3 linked regions of the Homo sapiens genome follow. The protein of the gene in region 2 purifies or fractionates together with the protein of the main gene of each other region. This does not show direct contact. Each region holds a gene or a part of one and is shown on either strand. Other genes may lie near its edges.

What was found. Proteins that work in one complex are often made in the same cells at the same time.
Region 1: the proteins of METTL6 (region 2) and PDLIM5 purify together in Homo sapiens (affinity purification with mass spectrometry; 3 studies listed by BioGRID and IntAct, with this or other methods). This does not show direct contact.
Region 3: the proteins of METTL6 (region 2) and WNK1 purify together in Homo sapiens (affinity purification with mass spectrometry; 3 studies listed by BioGRID and IntAct, with this or other methods). This does not show direct contact.

What each region holds. Positions count from the first base shown.
Region 1 is NC_000004.12:94,664,923-94,668,741, reverse strand, and holds the end of PDLIM5 (PDZ and LIM domain protein 5), read right to left. Parts: 3' UTR 2,718-3,819; coding exon of another isoform or gene 2,716-2,717; 3' UTR 519-2,715; downstream 1-518. UniProt on the Homo sapiens protein: May play an important role in the heart development by scaffolding PKC to the Z-disk region. May play a role in the regulation of cardiomyocyte expansion. Isoforms lacking the LIM domains may negatively modulate the scaffolding activity of isoform 1.
Region 2 is NC_000003.12:15,410,508-15,417,544, forward strand, and holds part of METTL6 (tRNA N(3)-cytidine methyltransferase METTL6), read right to left. Parts: intron 5,436-7,037; coding exon 5,265-5,435; intron 5,151-5,264; coding exon of another isoform or gene 5,127-5,150; exon of another isoform or gene 5,112-5,126; intron 5,077-5,111; coding exon of another isoform or gene 4,991-5,076; intron 4,408-4,990; coding exon of another isoform or gene 4,302-4,407; exon of another isoform or gene 3,656-4,301; coding exon 3,514-3,655; exon of another isoform or gene 3,439-3,513; coding exon of another isoform or gene 3,300-3,438; exon of another isoform or gene 3,164-3,299; intron 931-3,163; coding exon 749-930; 3' UTR 1-748. UniProt on the Homo sapiens protein: S-adenosyl-L-methionine-dependent methyltransferase that mediates N(3)-methylcytidine modification of residue 32 of the tRNA anticodon loop of tRNA(Ser), including tRNA(Ser)(UGA) and tRNA(Ser)(GCU).
Region 3 is NC_000012.12:895,560-902,596, forward strand, and holds part of WNK1 (serine/threonine-protein kinase WNK1), read left to right. Parts: intron 1-511; coding exon 512-1,173; intron 1,174-1,919; coding exon 1,920-2,122; intron 2,123-4,916; coding exon 4,917-5,111; intron 5,112-7,037. UniProt on the Homo sapiens protein: Serine/threonine-protein kinase component of the WNK1-SPAK/OSR1 kinase cascade, which acts as a key regulator of blood pressure and regulatory volume increase by promoting ion influx.

The sequences.
Region 1 (3,819 bases), on a different chromosome or scaffold from region 2:
ACAGAAACATCTGTCTTAACTTTATACAGTTGGAAAAATATCTTAAACTAATAAACAAATGAGGCAGAGGTGAGCCTACCTAGTTGTGGAATAGTCAGTTAATGAGATTGAGATGAGTTAAGCATCCCAATATCTAATGCAAAATGTGGAAATATGGATGATGATTTATGTTCTTTGATTATGTTCTAATATGATGTTTGATATGACAGGTTGTTCCAATAAATCATTTCAGCAATAAATATTTTCAAAAGACAATAGACCTTATTTATCTATTAATTCATAAACATTGGGTACATTCTACATGCACGGCATAAGAACAGAGAGAAATACAATAAATGTGACAGTATTTTCAAATATTTTGTTTCTGAGACATTTTGATAAGCAAATATCATACTAGAAGGGTTCTTCTGAGAATTATTACATCCTATCCTAACCTGTGAATATGGAACTTGATTATTTTCCCATGATGACTTGATGGAAACCACTCGCCAACCAACAACAACAAAAAGGAGAGCTCATTTACAACAATGCAGTCATTTATTTATTGAGTATGTGCACATTATGGTATTATTACTATACTGATTATATTTATCATGTGACTTCTAATTAGAAAATGTATCCAAAAGCAAAACAGCAGATATACAAAATTAAAGAGACAGAAGATAGACATTAACAGATAAGGCAACTTATACATTGAGAATCCAAATCCAATACATTTAAACATTTGGGAAATGAGGGGGACAAATGGAAGCCAGATCAAATTTGTGTAAAACTATTCAGTATGTTTCCCTTGCTTCATGTCTGAGAAGGCTCTCCCTTCAATGGGGATGACAAACTCCAAATGCCACACAAATGTTAACAGAATACTAGATTCACACTGGAACGGGGGTAAAGAAGAAATTATTTTCTATAAAAGGGCTCCTAATGTAGTACTGCTTGAAAATGGTACATTTTTGTTGTAGATTATTTTAAACATAATGCTATAGTAATATTTTGAAGATTTGAGCTGTTATTTCCATTTGTTTTTACACTGTGACTAAATGATTAGGTTTTAGTTTTAGACTCTAAACGGAACCTGAATTAATAGGAAATAAACACGGTACTATAGTTGTCCTATGGTGCCCCTATGGGTGATGGGTTCCAAGAACCCCCTAGGATACTAAAGTCCATGATGTTCAAGTCCCTTATAGAAAATGGTGTAGTATTTGCATATAACCTATGCACATCCTACCATACACTTTAAATCATCTCTAGATTACCTATAATAGCTAATACAATGTAAATGCTTTGTAAATAGTTGTTATACTATATTGTTTAATGACAAAAAAAAGTTTGTACATGTTCAGCAAAGGCGCAACCATCCATTTTTTTCCCCAAATATTTTTGACCCACAGTGGGCTGAATCACAGATGCGAAGCCTATGGACATGGAGGGCCAACTGGACAAGCATAAGCAGGGGATACTTTTTAGGTTGCTACTTCAGCAGGCAACATTCAGACCATGGAAGTCTAGAGAAAGATTATAAATCTGAACTTACCGCTAAAAATTTTAAAATGGGAAATAAATCCAAGGAGTTTTTAGTCATGCATTATGATTTTAATCTATGTTATGCCAAGTACAGCATTCCAAAATATACATCTAGAGACTAAAAGTAAATGCTCTATAGTGAAGAAGTAATAATTAAAAAATGCTACTAATATAGAAAATTTATAATCAGAAAAATAAATATTCAGGGAGCTCACCAGAAGAATAAAGTGCTCTGCCAGTTATTAAAGGATTACTGCTGGTGAATTAAATATGGCATTCCCCAAGGGAAACAGAGAGATTCTTCTGGATTATGTTCAATATTTATTTCACAGGATTAACTGTTTTAGGAACAGATATAAAGCTTCGCCACGGAAGAGATGGACAAAGCACAAAGACAACATGATACCTTAGGAAGCAACACTACCCTTTCAGGCATAAAATTTGGAGAAATGCAACATTATGCTTCATGAATAATATGTAGAAAGAAGGTCTGATGAAAATGACATCCTTAATGTAAGATAACTTTATAAGAAATCTGGGTCAAATAAAATTCTTTGAAGAAAACATCCAAATGTCATTGACTTATCAAATACTATCTTGGCATATAACCTATGAAGGCAAAACTAAACAAACAAACAAAAAGCTCACACCAAACAAAACCATCAACTTATTTTGTATTCTATAACATACAAGACTGTAAAGATGTGACAGTGTACATTATATGACAATGCACATTAGCCAGCAAGTCTTTTATAGGTGGTTTCAGCAGCAACGATAAATAATGCAGAATTCAGCTCCAGCACTTTATTTCAAAAGAAATTTCCTGCCTCCCTCCAAGATGCAGGGTGAGGAGGTAGCTTGGGGTTGCTATTGGAGAAGTATTCAGTTTGCTACTTTGTGTCACCCCTTGCCATTCTTTTATCCCCAGTTAATTATTATCTGCATATAATATAAATCTGCTAGACCATAAATTAACAGCTTTCAGGACAGATGCCTTGAAAGTTCTTAGGGAGGTTAAACAAATATTGTAGCCTAAAACCTCCTCTATAACAAACATGCACACAATGGAAGTGATGTCGTAAGTGAGTGATGGGGCAGGAAGGACCTAGGGCTCTGTCTCGACTATAAAATCACCTTGCCCCAAACAAATTTAAATTATAACTTAGGAGGTTCATGGACTTTCATCCATTCTGGAAACAAAGAGAAAAACCAAATCAAATACCAGAATCTGTTTTCTCACTGGGCAAATAGCAACAGGATCCACAGTTTTACCACAATTGTTTCCCTGTCTCCATGTGGTATCTACATAATTCTTTTCCCAAAGGAGGAAATCAAATAACAGGCCAATCTGAGTAATTAAACTCCCCTCCCAACACTACCCAACCTCTGTGAATAAAAGCTTTCCAAACTTTGTGATCACATTTGAAATTGGTTCACTTATTATTGAGAGAAAACCACAAAAAGTCTCAATTTCATCACATCCTCAAACCAATCTTTTAATTTTTAAATGCAGAAGAAGAAACAAAACGAAACAAAAAGATCATTCTGCAAAGAGACCTCTCAACTCTTCATCAGCCAGTGGCATAACTCAGAAACTGATTTAACTAATTTATTATTTGAGAAAAGGGGATTGAAAAACAATTGGGGGGTATAATCTTCTGATTCACAATTCCCAGCCACATTCTTTTCTATTTATTCTCTCTCTCTCTTTTTTTTTTTTTTTTTTTTTTTTTAAGAGCCGGAGTCTTGCTCTGTCACCAGGCTGGAGTGCAGTGGTGTGATCTCAGCTCACTGCAACTTCCGTCTCCTGGGTTCAAGAATTTTCCTGCCTCAGCCTCCCAAGTACATGGGACTACAGGCACGCCCCACCATGCCCAGCTCATTTTTGTATTTTTAGTAGAGACAGGGTTTCACCATGTTGGCCAGGATGATCTTGATCTCTTGACCTCATGATCCGCCCGTCTTGGCCTCCCAAAGTGCTGGGATCACAGGCGTGAGCCACCACACCTGGCCCTCTATTTATTCTCTTTAAAGAGAGAGAAAACTATGAGAGGCCAAAATTATTTAATTAAATCTTTACCTTAGCACAAGGGAAAAAAATGGAATTTGCCTAATATAGGTGATGAAGCATACACAATGAATAGAAACAATCACATTTTAGTAAAAGGCAAAAATTTGAGACTTATAAGCTATATGGTAGCTTATTTTTGGGTGGGGAAGAAATGAGAAAAGAATATAACATCTCTTACTGGCATGACACATTTTGATAAAAAATCTTATTGTCCTTTCCTA
Region 2 (7,037 bases):
ACCATGTTGCCCACACTGGTCTTGAACTCCTGGGCTCAAGGGATCTGCTGGCCTTGGCCTCTCAAAGTGCTGGGGTTATAGGCATGAGCCTATAACCCTCAAAATATCTTAAGAAAAGTAACTGACTGCAGTTGAAAACAGGTAATTGAAATTGTGGTAAGTGAAACCATGGATAAAGCGGGACTACTGTACATGCTCATTAAAAAAAATTAAGGGCCAGGCATGGTGGCTTACACCTGTAGTCCTAGCTACTCAGGAGGCTGAGGCAGGAAGACTGCTTGAGCCCAGGGGAGGTCGAGGCTACAATGAGCTGTGATCACACACCACTGCACTCCAGCCTGCGTACCACAAGATCCTGTCTCAAAAAATATATAAAGTAAAAAGAGTGATTTTATTTATTTATGAAACAGGGTCTCACTCTGTCGCCCAGGCTGGAGTGCAATGGCATGATCTTGGCTCACTGCAGTCTCCGCCTCTTGGGTTCAAGCGATTCTCTTGCCTCAGCCTCCTGAGTAGCTGGGATTACAGGCACTCGCCACTATGCCCAGCTAATTTTTTTGTATTTTTAGTAGAGATGGGGTCTCACCATGTTGGCCAGGCTGGTCTCAAACTCCTGACCTCAGATGATCCCCCAACCTCGGCCTCCCGAAGTGCTGGGATTACAGGCATGAGCCACCGCACCCAGACGAAAGAGTGATTTTAAATTTTCCTCTTCAAGGGAAGGTATAAATGCCAACCTCATGAAAGGTCAGGACTTAGGATCCAGGCCCAGGACCACAGGAGATGGGTTCTTAGGAGGCTTTAGAAATTTGCTCTGAAGGAAAACTCTTGGCACACACAGGCCTTCTTTTTTATTCACCGTCTCTCGAAACACATACTCGTTTACCACTTCTTCATAACCTGTGTCCATAAAGAGCTGAGCCAGGAAGTCTGTAAGACAAGCATCAACAATGCTCAACAGTCTTCATAACATTACATTTGCTTTGCAGTCCTTGAGGAGGGATAGAGGGCTGAGGCTATTTTAATATTTTTTTAAATGAAAACCTCAATGCTAAAATTTAAAGGTTTTGATTTGGGAACTAATACACTCCTTCTCCTCTTCTACCCAAACAGAAACCTCCAATTAAACAATTAAATCAGAACAAGGTGAAGGACAACCTGGTGTTCGCATCTTGCCTTATTATGAATTCTCAAATACAAAAGCCCGAGTAAAAAGAAACAATTCCAAATTGGTTATATTCCTTTTTTTTTTTAATTAAAAAAAAATTTTTTTTTGAGACACAATGTCACTCTGTCACCCAGGCTAGATCAGGAGCACGATCTCGGCTCACTGCAACCTCCGATTCCTGGGCTTAAGTGATTCTCCTGCCTCAGCCTCTTAAGTAGCTGGGACTACAGGCACACACTACCATGCCTGGTTAATTTTTTTGTATTTTTAGTAGAGACAGGGTTTCGCCATGTTGGCCAGGCTGGTCTCAAACCCCTGACCTCAAATGATCCCCCAATCTTGGCCTCCCAAAGTGCTGAGATAACACGCATGAGCCACTGGGCCCGGCCGATTATATTCCTTTTTAAAAATTATCTTATTGTTTCCCATCTCCGAACAAAAACATAAAAATTGGCTATACTCCTACAAGGTCTGCATGTGCTCAATTTGTTTACATCAAACATCTTATTCATCCTAACACGAAGGAGGAAAATTTGTGATCAGAGTGGAGAAAAACACCCAGTGGTGACCTAGCTCCAGGAAAATCTAACCCAAATAATACATCACTACACATTAAATGAAACAAACAGAATAAATGGTGAGGCAGCAAAAATAAAGACTCGTACTAAGAGCATTGCTCCAGAGAACGTGCTCTGAAGCACTCTGCAGATATCACTGAATCTTCTCAATATTTACAATTGGTTTAAATTTTATGAATTAAAACATCTTTTGAATTTTAACCTATTTTGATAATTTTGCATTTTGTTTTGTTTTGTTTTGTTTTTTTGAGATAGGCTTCTCGCCCTGTCGCCCAGGCTGGAGGGCAGTGGTATGATCATAGCTCACTGCAGCCTCCATCTTCTGGGGCCAAATGATCCTCTTGCCTCAGCCTCCTAAGCAGCAGGACCACAAGTGCATGCCACCACTCCTGGCTAATATTTTTTTTTTTTTATTTTTAGTAGAGACAAAGTTTCACGGTTGCCCAGGCTGGTCTCGAACTCCTGAGCTCAAGTGATCCTTCTATCTCAGTCTCCCAAATAATTTTGCAGCTTTAATAGTAATCACTCAATTTTAATTCATTTTGGTATCTAAAAGAATATTTCATTTCAAGAAGAAAAATGTTTGTTAAAATAGAGGTTAATTATCTTCCTGTCTAGATGATTAGGTAGACTATGTTCAAGACACCTAAAAGACCAAAATAATGTTCCACATTTTCTTATCAAAAATGACTTTTTAAATACCTCTTTAGGCTGGGCATGGTGGCTCATACCTGCAGTCCCAGAATTTTGGGAGGCTGAAGTGGGCAGATCACTTGAGACCAGGAGATTGAGACCAGCCTGGCCAACATGGCAAAACCGCATCTCTACTAAAAATACAAAAATTAGTTGGGTGTGGTGGCACACACTTGTAATCCTTGCTACTTGGGAGGCTGAGGCATGAGAATCACTTGAGCCTGGGTGGTGGGGGTTGCAGTGAGCCAAGATCATGCCACTGCACTCCAGCCTGTAAGACTCTGTCTCAAAAATAAATAAATGCCTCTTTACAGCAAATTTGCATATTTATTTAAAAACAGATCCAGGACAGGCATGGTGACTAACACCTGTAATCCCACCACTTTTGGAGGCTGAGACAGATGGATCACTTGAGCTCAGAAGTTCGAGACCAGCATGGGCAATATGGTGAAACCCCCATTCTACCAAAAATACAAGAAATTAGCCAGCCATGGTGGCATGTGTCTGTGGTCCCAGCTACTCAGGAGGCTTCGGTGGATCACTTGAGTCTGGAAGGTGGAGGCTGCAGTGAGCCAAGATCACACCACTGCACTCCAGCCTGGGTGACAGAATTAGACTCTGTCTCAAAAACAACAAAAAAACCAAACCCCAAAACAGATCCAATCAATTCTACAGAAAAAGGTTTCCTGACTTTGTGCCATGGGAAAGTAATCTCAAGGCATTATACTGTCAAATTTGCTTTATTTTTAACTGGACAAGAAGTTTCTGACTTGCCCTCCCTCTTATTCCAGCACAATTCCTAGTAGGGAATCCACATGGCATGTCAGAGGCTGTCCATTAACCCAAGCTCATTAGGGGAGTCACTGACACCAGAGAAGGCTTGTGAGCTCTTCAAGGGCAGGGGCCAGGTCTGTGCCTTCCAGGTGCTGGGTAAATATTGTGCAGTAGAGGGCTTGTTTCAGGGTCTCGTGCACATGTCGCAAGCCTTCTCCAAGCAGCCTTGCAGTGATAATGCAATCAAATAAACAGAAACAAAGAATAAAACATTTAAAGACTGGATTCCATTCATCTTACCATCAGTAAAAAAATATGATCTGGTCCCATCTTGTCTAACATAAAAGTTTTCTCCAAGTTTGCTGCTGGCTTTAAACCTAAGCATGGCATGATCATACAGTCCGTAGTCACGAAACAAGACACTTTTGCCTGGTTTTAATACCTATGAAACAAAAGCAGGCTGAACATGACTTTGGAGAACCCTGTCAAAATAAAACCTGATTAAGTTAGGACTTAAAATAAATTTGTGATAGTTACTAAGGGGACAGACTGAAATGCCCATAATACGGAACCAAAATGGCCTACTACTTAAAAAGATAGTAAGACCAGGCAGGGCTCCATAACACTAAGACACTTCTTTTTTTTTTTTTTTTGAGATGGAGTCTTGCTCTGTCGCCCAGGCTGGAGTGCAGTGGCATAATCTCAGCTCACTGCAACCTCCGTCTCCCACGTTCAAGTGATTCTCGTGTCTCAGCCTCCCGAGTAGCTGGGATTATAGGTGCCCGCCACCATGCCCGGCTAATTTTTGTATTTTAGTAGAGATGAGGTTTCACCATGTTGGCCAGGCTAGTCTCGAACTCCTGACCTCAAGTAATTTGCCCACCTCAGTCTCCCAAAGTTGGGATTACAGGCGTGAGCCACCTCGCTCGTCCCTGAAGACAATTCTTGAGTACCTCCAAGAGCACCCTGGAATGTCCAGTGTCACAGGATTAAAATGTTAGAGACCAACCTGGGCAATATAGTGAGACCCCATCTCTACACAAAAATTAAAAATTAGCTGGATCTGGTAGTGCGTCCTGTAGTCCCAACTACTTCAGAGGCTGAGGTGGGAGAACTGCTTGAGCCCAGGAAGTTGAGGCTGCAGTGAGCCACGTCCATGCCACTGCACTCCAGCCTGAGTGACACAGCAAGACCCTGTCTCAAAAATAAATAAATAAGTGTTAGAGACAATAAATGAAAGTGTTATCCTCATTGAAGCACTTTCTTGCAACATTTTATTCACCATCTCCTAGTACTCAAACTGTATTCAACTGTCTCTTAAAAAAACAAACAAACAAACAAACAAAAAACCAGAATGTCGTTTTGGCTCTTTACTGATTCAGGTTGGTTTTCCTCATTCTGAGCCTCAGCTCTCATTTCATTGTGCCACAATGTATAGCTCAATCACGGTGCTAATGACTGATACATGCCTAGCATTTGACTGCTTAACCATACATTTTCTCATTGTATCTTCACCCAACTGTGGGACAAAGGAATGTGATTATTATTCTCACATGAGACACGGAAACCAATACTCAACAGGGTTAAGTGATCTGCCAATGATCATACATTAGCTTTTTTTAGACAAGGTCTTGCTATGTTGGCCAGGCTGGTTTCAAACTCCTGACCTCAAGTGATTCACCTGCCTTGGCATCCCAAAGTGTTGGGATTACAGGCATGAAACACCACACCTGGCCAAACTGTGTACTCTTGACCACTAAACCATAACTCCTCTCACCTTATAGCAGGACTCCATGGATCCCAGGTAACTGCAAAATCATCCTTGTCCCAGGGCTGGCGAAGCTCTGAAGAGCAGCCATGGCACTGCACAAATCAGAATTTAGGGTGGATGTTTTATGCCAGAGGACCCCTTTCTATACACTCACTACACAGCCTACCTAGTGAGAATGGAGAGACTATGTGAATCTAGACAGTACATGAGCCTCATGAGGGAAGGTAAGTAAAAGAATCCAGACTGTCCAACCCTCAAGTGCAGGCCCCAAATCACTAACCTTGTAAATGTTTTGTAAGACAAGGTGCATCTTATCAGGATGAACAGCTGACAGCACAAATATCAACATAACAACATCCACAGACTCTGGCGGTACATGATCCAGAAGATCATCTTTAGTCAGATCACACTGGAATACCTTGCATCTTTCTGTATCATATAAAGGATTTTGCTACAGGGGGAAGAAATACAAATGAATTTTAATGCAACCACTAGGCTGATACATATAGAAAAATACAACATCAAAAGGCGATCCAATTTCCACTTGTATACATAGAAATTATCACTGTTACCAGATAAAACTGATTAATAAATCACTCACTATAAAGCATGTAATATTCACTACTGCTACAGGAGCAAGACTTCATTTTAATAAATCATTTTTAACTGAGGAGACAATAAGAGTATCACGTACTCAAAACTGAGCATTTTAGAAGCATATTATTTCCAGAGGGATGATGATCCAAAACTGGCCTCTGCTTCTTTTTGTTTTTTAAAGAGACAGGGTCTCACTCTGTCTGCTGGGCTAGAGTGCAGTGGCATGATCATGGTTCACTGCAGCCTTCACCTCCTGAGCCCAAGTTATCCTCCCACTTCAGCCTCCTAAGTAGCTGGAACTACAGGTGTGCACCACTGCATCTGGCTAAATTTTTATTTTTATTTTTGTAAAGATGGGATCTTGCTATGTTGTACAGGCTAGTCTTGAACTCCTGGCCTCAAGTGATCCTCCCACTTCAGCCTTCCAAAGTGCTGGGATTACAGGCATGAGCCACTATGTCCTGCTGGCCTCTGGCTTCCTTAATCCTCCTTTGAATCATCTGCTTAAAGCCTAAACCCTATGAGAAGCCCTTCTAATTCCCCTTGATGAGATGCTCCCGCAGTTCTTCTGGGGTATATTTTCTCTTTATGCAGCAAGCTAAATAAACTTAACCTTTTTTTGACTACAAATGTGTTCCTGGTACATTTTGGTTGGTAGGCTTCAACACATGTATAGGAGTATTATGAAGAAAAACATTAAACTTCTATTTCATGTAAATGAGGACCTGAATAAATAGATATACAAAGTTACTGGATGGGAAAATTAAATGCAAAATTAAAAAGATGTCAATTCTATTCATAATTCCATTTGTAAATCCAATGCAATCTAAACTGATTCCCAACAGATTTCTAGAAACTAGACAGGGTGAATCTAATTCATCATAAAGTAAAAATCTTTAAGAATAGCCAAGTCAATTTTTAAAATGATGAACAATGAGGTAGGTATGGTGGCTCATGCCTGTAATCCCAGCAACCTGGGAGACTGAAGTGAAAGGATCGCTTGAGTTCAAAGCTGCAGTGAGCTATGATCCATGCCACTGCAAGCTAGCCTGGAAAACAGAGCAAGATCTCATCTTTAAAAAAATAGGCCAGGTGCGGTGGCTCACGCCTGTAATCCCAGCACTTTGGGAGGCCAAGGCAGGTGGATCATGAGGTCAGGAGTTTGAGACCAGCCTGGCCAATATGGTGAAACCCCATCTCTACTAAAAATACAAAAATTAGCTGGGCGTGGTGACCCGCACCTGTAGTCCCAGTTACTGGGAAGACTGAGGCAGAAGAATCGCTTGAACCTGGGAGGCGGAGGTTGTAGTGAGCCGAGATCATGCCACTGCACGCCAGCCTGCATGATAGAGACTCTGTCTCAAAAATAAATAAATAAATAAATAAATAAATAAATAAAATAGAATGAAGAATAATAAAGGAGAAGATACACTACTGGATATCAAAATATATTACA
Region 3 (7,037 bases), on a different chromosome or scaffold from region 2:
GTGATTCTCCTGCCTCAGCCTCCCAAGTAGCTGGGATTACAGGCACACGCTACCATGCCTGGCTAATTTTTGTATTTTTAGTAGAGACAGGGTTTCACCACGTTGGCCAGGCTGATCTGAAACTCCTGACCTCAAGTGATCCACCTGCTTCAGCCTCCCAAAATGGTGGGCTTACAGGCATGAGCCACTATGCCTGGCCCTGACCTTTTGTTATGTATATGTTGACTAAGACATAAATCTGAATTCTGTGTATGACATCAAATACGAAAGTAAATTATTTACTTTATAAGCGTAGCCAGCCACACAGAATCTGCATCTCAGTACCCATGTGTTCTCTATGATGGTATTCAATTTTTCTTCCTAGTCAAAAGTGGAGGCGCTATGTAAAGAGACAATCAGCCTACTCTTTGACAGGGAAATAAAGTGATTCTTTTTTTCCTTTTTTAAATTGTCTGTGATAGAAATTGGATATTGAGAACTTAAGTTTTTAATCTTTGTCCTTTTTTATCAGGTTTCTGTTGCAGCAGACGGTGCCCAGAAAGAGGGTAAAAATAAGTCAGAAGATGCAAAGTCTGTTCATTTTGAATCCAGCACCTCAGAGTCCTCAGTGCTATCAAGTAGTAGTCCAGAGAGTACCTTGGTGAAACCAGAGCCGAATGGCATAACCATCCCTGGTATCTCTTCAGATGTGCCAGAGAGTGCCCACAAAACTACTGCCTCAGAGGCAAAGTCAGACACTGGGCAGCCTACCAAGGTTGGACGTTTTCAGGTGACAACTACAGCAAACAAAGTGGGTCGTTTCTCTGTATCAAAAACTGAGGACAAGATCACTGACACAAAGAAAGAAGGACCAGTGGCATCTCCTCCTTTTATGGATTTGGAACAAGCTGTTCTTCCTGCTGTGATACCAAAGAAAGAGAAGCCTGAACTGTCAGAGCCTTCACATCTAAATGGGCCGTCTTCTGACCCGGAGGCCGCTTTTTTAAGTAGGGATGTGGATGATGGTTCCGGTAGTCCACACTCGCCCCATCAGCTGAGCTCAAAGAGCCTTCCTAGCCAGAATCTAAGTCAAAGCCTTAGTAATTCATTTAACTCCTCTTACATGAGTAGCGACAATGAGTCAGATATCGAAGATGAAGACTTAAAGTTAGAGCTGCGACGACTACGAGATAAGTAAGTATATTTTCTCTTGTGAAAGAATGTCAGATAAGGTTTTCAGACCTAGATCCCAGGGCCAAGATTAATAATATTTTTCGCCACAATATGCTAATGTCTCATTTCTTTTAAAGAGACAGTGCCACAGAAGCCCCACCCCATACCTCCCCACCACACACACACACACACACACACACACACACACACACACACACACACACACACGATTCCCAACCACTGACTCACAGGCACAGGCAGCTTCTCTTGCACTCATACAGACCCATAGCATTTCTAGTTCTAGAACTTCTTCATTGTTACTATATTATTACTGTATTATTGTTACTGTATTGTATTATTATTTTTATTAATAGCATATTGTATCACTATTAACTGCTCTTTATTTATTAGTCCACTAAATGAATCTGGCACTGGGATGTATGATTATTTGGCACGTTTTGTTTGGCAGATTGGGTCAGAGTAGCAAATTCAGCTATTGTGTGCGTGGCCTCAAAAGTCAGGAAATGTTTTTCTCCTAAAACATTATCAACCATTTGTTGTTGGCTAGGAGCTTGTTGGAACATGGCTTGGGTAATGCAGGCCAGCAAGGTGAGTTGACAAACTAGAATCTCGTGGTAGTACATTTGGGGAAAAGGTTCATTAGTAACTACTACATACTTGAAAGCAGGTTTAGGAATATGCTGTTAATTCTTGTCTGAATGAAGAGGATTATGGTATTTTGAATTATGTTTGGTTATCTTTCACAGACATCTCAAAGAGATTCAGGACCTGCAGAGTCGCCAGAAGCATGAAATTGAATCTTTGTATACCAAACTGGGCAAGGTGCCCCCTGCTGTTATTATTCCCCCAGCTGCTCCCCTTTCAGGGAGAAGACGACGACCCACTAAAAGCAAAGGCAGCAAATCTAGTCGAAGCAGTTCCTTGGGGAATAAAAGCCCCCAGCTTTCAGGTAAAAAGCCCTGGACTAGGTCAGCCACAGCTGTCCTATCTTTTGTTTCTGTCTCCAGCTGTATGTGACCTGCTGAACATTTGTTGTTTTTGTTAAATTTCAAAGGAATTTGGCTCTCCTGATATTTTTGCTTCCTTGACTGCTGTACTTACATTTATTGTACCTCTTTTTGAGTCTATAGAAGTAGACTTAGTGAATACAATGGCTTATTCCATTGTAATCCATATTGCTATCTACTGGTAATCTTTATTTATAGTTATTCTTAAGGATAGACATTTAGCTTTGCCTGTTAACTCGTATAACTCACATTTAACCAAACTCTTGGGCAGTTGGAAGAAAATACATTATTCTCTGTTTAGTAAAACTTGGGTAGATTCTTTGTTTTAATGGATGACTTAGTCATAATTGCAACTTAGATGAATGTAATCGTCATATAGATATTTGTGTGTATGTCTAAGTGGTAACTTCTTGATTAAGGTTTTTATTTCATTTATATTGGGTTAAAGAACTTGCTAGTCATTGGTTAGGCACGGTGGCTCACGCCTGTAATCCCAGAACTTTGGGAGGCTGAGGCAGGCAGATCACGAGGTCAGGAGATCAAGACCATCCTGACTAACACGGTGAAACCCTGTCTCTACTAAAAATAAAAAAATTAGGTGGGCATGGTGGCAGGCGCCTATAGTCCCAGCTACTCAGGAGGCTGAGGCAGGAGAATGGCATGAGCCCGGGAGGCGGAGCTTGCAGTGAGCTGAGATTGCACCACTGCACTCCAGCCTCGGTGACAGAGCAAGACTCTGTCTCAAAAAAAAAAAAAAAAAGAAGAACTTGCTAGTCATTAAAATCAAAGAAATAGTTAAGTGATACTCTTTTGTAATGTAGTATATATATATATTTATTTATTTTAAGAGACAGGGCCTCACTCTGTTGCCCAGACTGGAGTGCAGTGGTGTGATCATAGCACACAACACAACAGCCTCAAACTCCTAGGCTCAGGTGGTCCTCCTACCTTAGCTTCCTGGGTAGCTGGGATTACAGGCACACACTACCATGCCCTGCTAACTTTGAATTTTTTTTTTGAGACAGAATCCCGCTCTGTTGCCCAGGCTGGAGTGCAGTGGCACGATCTCGGCTCACTGCATTCTCCGCCTCCCAGTTTCAAGTGATCCTCCTGCCTCAGCCCCGCATAGTAGCTGGGATTACAGGCACATGTCACCATGCCTGGCTAATTTTTGTATTTTTAGTAGAGATGGGGTTTCACTATGTTGGCCAGGCTGGTCTCAAACTCCTGGCTCAGGTGATCCACCCACCTTGGCCTCCCAAAGTGCTGGGATTACAGGCGTGAGCCACCGTGCCCGGCCCTGGACTATATTTTAATTGGGATAGATAGAGAGTTTCTAATCCTTTGGTGAAATTATGGTAGTGTTAACACAATTAGTTGAAAAGTAAAAGAAGGTTAAAATATGTTAAAAAGCAGTTGCAAACTTCTTAGCAGTTCCATTCTCTGGAAAGGTTCACAGATATCCAAATGTAGCACATTAGGGCCAGTTCATGCAGCCCATTAGTAGAGATGTGATTGTAAGAGAAATCAGCTAATTTCTGATCTGATCCCAATCAGATCTTTTTTGTTTTTGTTTTTGTTTTTTTGAGGCAGAGTCGGCAGTGGCTCAACCTCCAACTCCCAGGTTCAAGCAATTCTCATGCCCCAGCCTCCCAAGTAGCTGGGATTACAAGCATGTAATCCCAAACCAAATGTATAAGAACACCTGGCTAATTTTTGTATTTTTGTATTTTTAGTTGCACTATGTTGGCCAGACTGGTCTGAAACTTCTGGCCTCAGGTGATCCGCCCGCCTCAGCCTCCCAAAGTGCGGATTACAGGCATGAGCCACTATGCCCAGCTATGATCCTAATCAAATTCTAATCCTAATTTTGACATACTTTTTGAGTGGACTTGAATTCAACTGGGAACCGGGGAGCAGAGAGTCAATTTTAGGACAACCGACCTATTGAAAGCAACCTACCAAAAATAATTTTAAACACCCATTGCTCTGTAGTGACCTCCATCATTTTTGAACACCTCTTTTGTATTTGCTCTGATGCACGTTTATAGGAAAGTCTAAGCAGAGACTGCCTAGCAAACCTTTTTGTATAATGATTCAACACATTTTCTAATAGGGTAAAAAAAAAAGCAATCATGGAATTGCAGAATGGAATCTGGGTATCCACTAGGTACTCTGGTCTTCTTACGCTGCTCAGACATGTGGCCCATCTAGGTTTTCTAAAGCTAAAAAGCTCTGGAATAGTACATATGGCCCTATTACCTATGGATTCTTTTCTTTTTTTTTTTTTTTTTTTGAGTGCAGTGGCATGATGTCGGCTCACTGCAGCCTCTGCCTCTGGGTTCAAGCAATTCTCCTTCCTCAGCCTCCTGAGTAGCTGGGATTATAGGCACCCTCCACCACGCCTGGCTAATTTTTATATTTTTAGTAGAGACAGGGTTTCATCATGTTGGCCAGGCTGGTCTCGAACTCCTGACCTCAGGTGATCCGCCCACCTTGGCCTCCCAAAGTGCTGGGATATTATAGGCGTGAGCCACAACACCCAGCCTATCTATTGAGTCTTAGTGTCATTCCTCACTTCTCCCGTTAGTGAGGACTTTGTTCTTCTCATCAGTTTGTAGCTTTTGACCCATCATTCATCACTCAGTGGAACAAACCAAATGTATAAGAACAGTGCCTGATGAGTGCATGGGAAGAGCTGGACATGTTTCCTCATGCCACTTTATCTTTTGGCAGGTAACCTGTCTGGTCAGAGTGCAGCTTCAGTCTTGCACCCCCAGCAGACCCTCCACCCTCCTGGCAACATCCCAGAGTCCGGGCAGAATCAGCTGTTACAGCCCCTTAAGCCATCTCCCTCCAGTGACAACCTCTATTCAGCCTTCACCAGTGATGGTGCCATTTCAGTACCAAGCCTTTCTGCTCCAGGTCAAGGTAATAAAGCAACCATCATCGTCCAAAAACAATAAAATGGAGATGTTGCCATACCTGGGACAAAAGCCTGTTAAGGCGGGTTGGGAGACTAGCTGACCAGAACACAGCCTGTGTGTTGTACACTGAAGAATCTGGGTGAAAAGGGAAGTGGAGTGATAATGAGAATCGGTGGGCTCACTGCTCCCATTAGGTGAAATTACTTTTTTTCAAGGAATTACAGTGAAAAGTTACATCTGTGTGGCCTATATGACTTGCTCATTTGGGATTTGGAACTTAGGCTTTAATATTAGGCTGAGATTTCCTGGATGAAATTCTAAGGTGTTTTAGCAGTTTCTGAAGCTAATACATTTTCTTAGCCATTGTAGAATTTTGTTACTTTTAAGTATGGGAGTGGCATACTAAAATGAATAACCTTACAATTCAGTTTTTTATCCATAATCTACTTTCCAAATATAGCTCTGTTTATTAGTGATTGCTGAAAAAATTCCCACAGAGGAAAGAGCTTTTAGTCATATTAGAACAAGAATTGAAAAGACTTGGGCATCTGGGTGAGAAGAATGAAAAAAATATAGGTACTGGCTTATGTGCCTTTGCCACAGTTTCACAGAAATTAGAGATCAGTCTCTTCACAGGAAGAATGCACTTGATTGGTAAGGAGGGCAAACTAGCTAGCATTATTCGAACTAAGAAAAGCTTCCGCATTTTGCAGATGGGTAGAATTAAGACCTAATATTTCATCTCTTACATATCTGACCTTCCCCCCAGAAGCTTGTTCTTCTGTGTGCCATCTTAGTGCATTTCACCACTCCAGCCTCAAGTTTCTAACATCTTGTAGTTGTGTTCTGTCTCTTCTCCTCTCTCTGTTCTACCCTGTTTTTCCCCTCTCACAGGCTGTGCGAAGTTTAACTGTGCATCTGAACAGGTGACATTCAAACCTGGTGGCAGGAGGACCCGATTTCTGAGTACGCCCTGCTTGGCTCTTTGTGTGTAACACCTTTACTCCTTCCTTGTCCTTGTGTTTCTGCTGCTTGGATCTGATGTTTCACGCAGTCCATTTTCATTTGTCTCTTTTTGTATATCATCTACTCAGTGGCTTGGCTGAATTACTGTTACCCTCAGAAGTTTGGGCCCCCACATTAATTATGATAAAAAATGTCAAAATAACAAGTTATCTACAAATTTCAATGTAACTTTCTGGTAGAAGTGCTTCTTCATGGATCTGTGACAGAGAGTGGATATGGTATCTAGGCAATAGATTGCTGGGTCATTTAGAATAATGAAGACTGAACTCCACAGTCGTAGTCAGTGCTGTCTGTCTGCCCTAGCATTAGAAATGAGAGAAATCAGCCAGACACGGTGGCGTACACCTGTAATCCCAGCACTTTGGGAGGCCGAGGCGGGAAGATTGCTTGAGGCCAGGAGCTCGAGACCAACCCTGGGCAACATGGTGATACCCCATCTCTAAAAAAAAAAAAAAAGTTAGCCTGGCATGGTGGTGTGCACCTATAGTCCCAGCTGCCCAGGAGGCTGAGGCGGGAGGATTACCACCTTAAGACCAGGAGGTTGAGACTGCAGTGAGCCATGATTGCACCACTGCACCCCAGCCTGAGCGACAGAGTGAGACTCTATCTCAAAAAAAAGAAACGAAATGAAGAAAGCATTTTGACCAATGATGCTCTTAGATCCTGGCAGCAGGTAAAAATTATGTACCATTTTTTTCCATTCTTTGTCAGAGTAGATTGAAATCTTATTTTTCTTCTCTATTAAGCCTAAGCAGCTACCAGTTGAAAAGATGCTAGGATCTCTTCATTGGATCATTCCACCACTACTGTCCTCTAACCCCATAAAATCAAAAGCGGTTTTTAGTTTGGTTATTCTGATAAAGCACTTAGTCTAATAAAGATCAAAGCCCAGCATCTGCAAGTG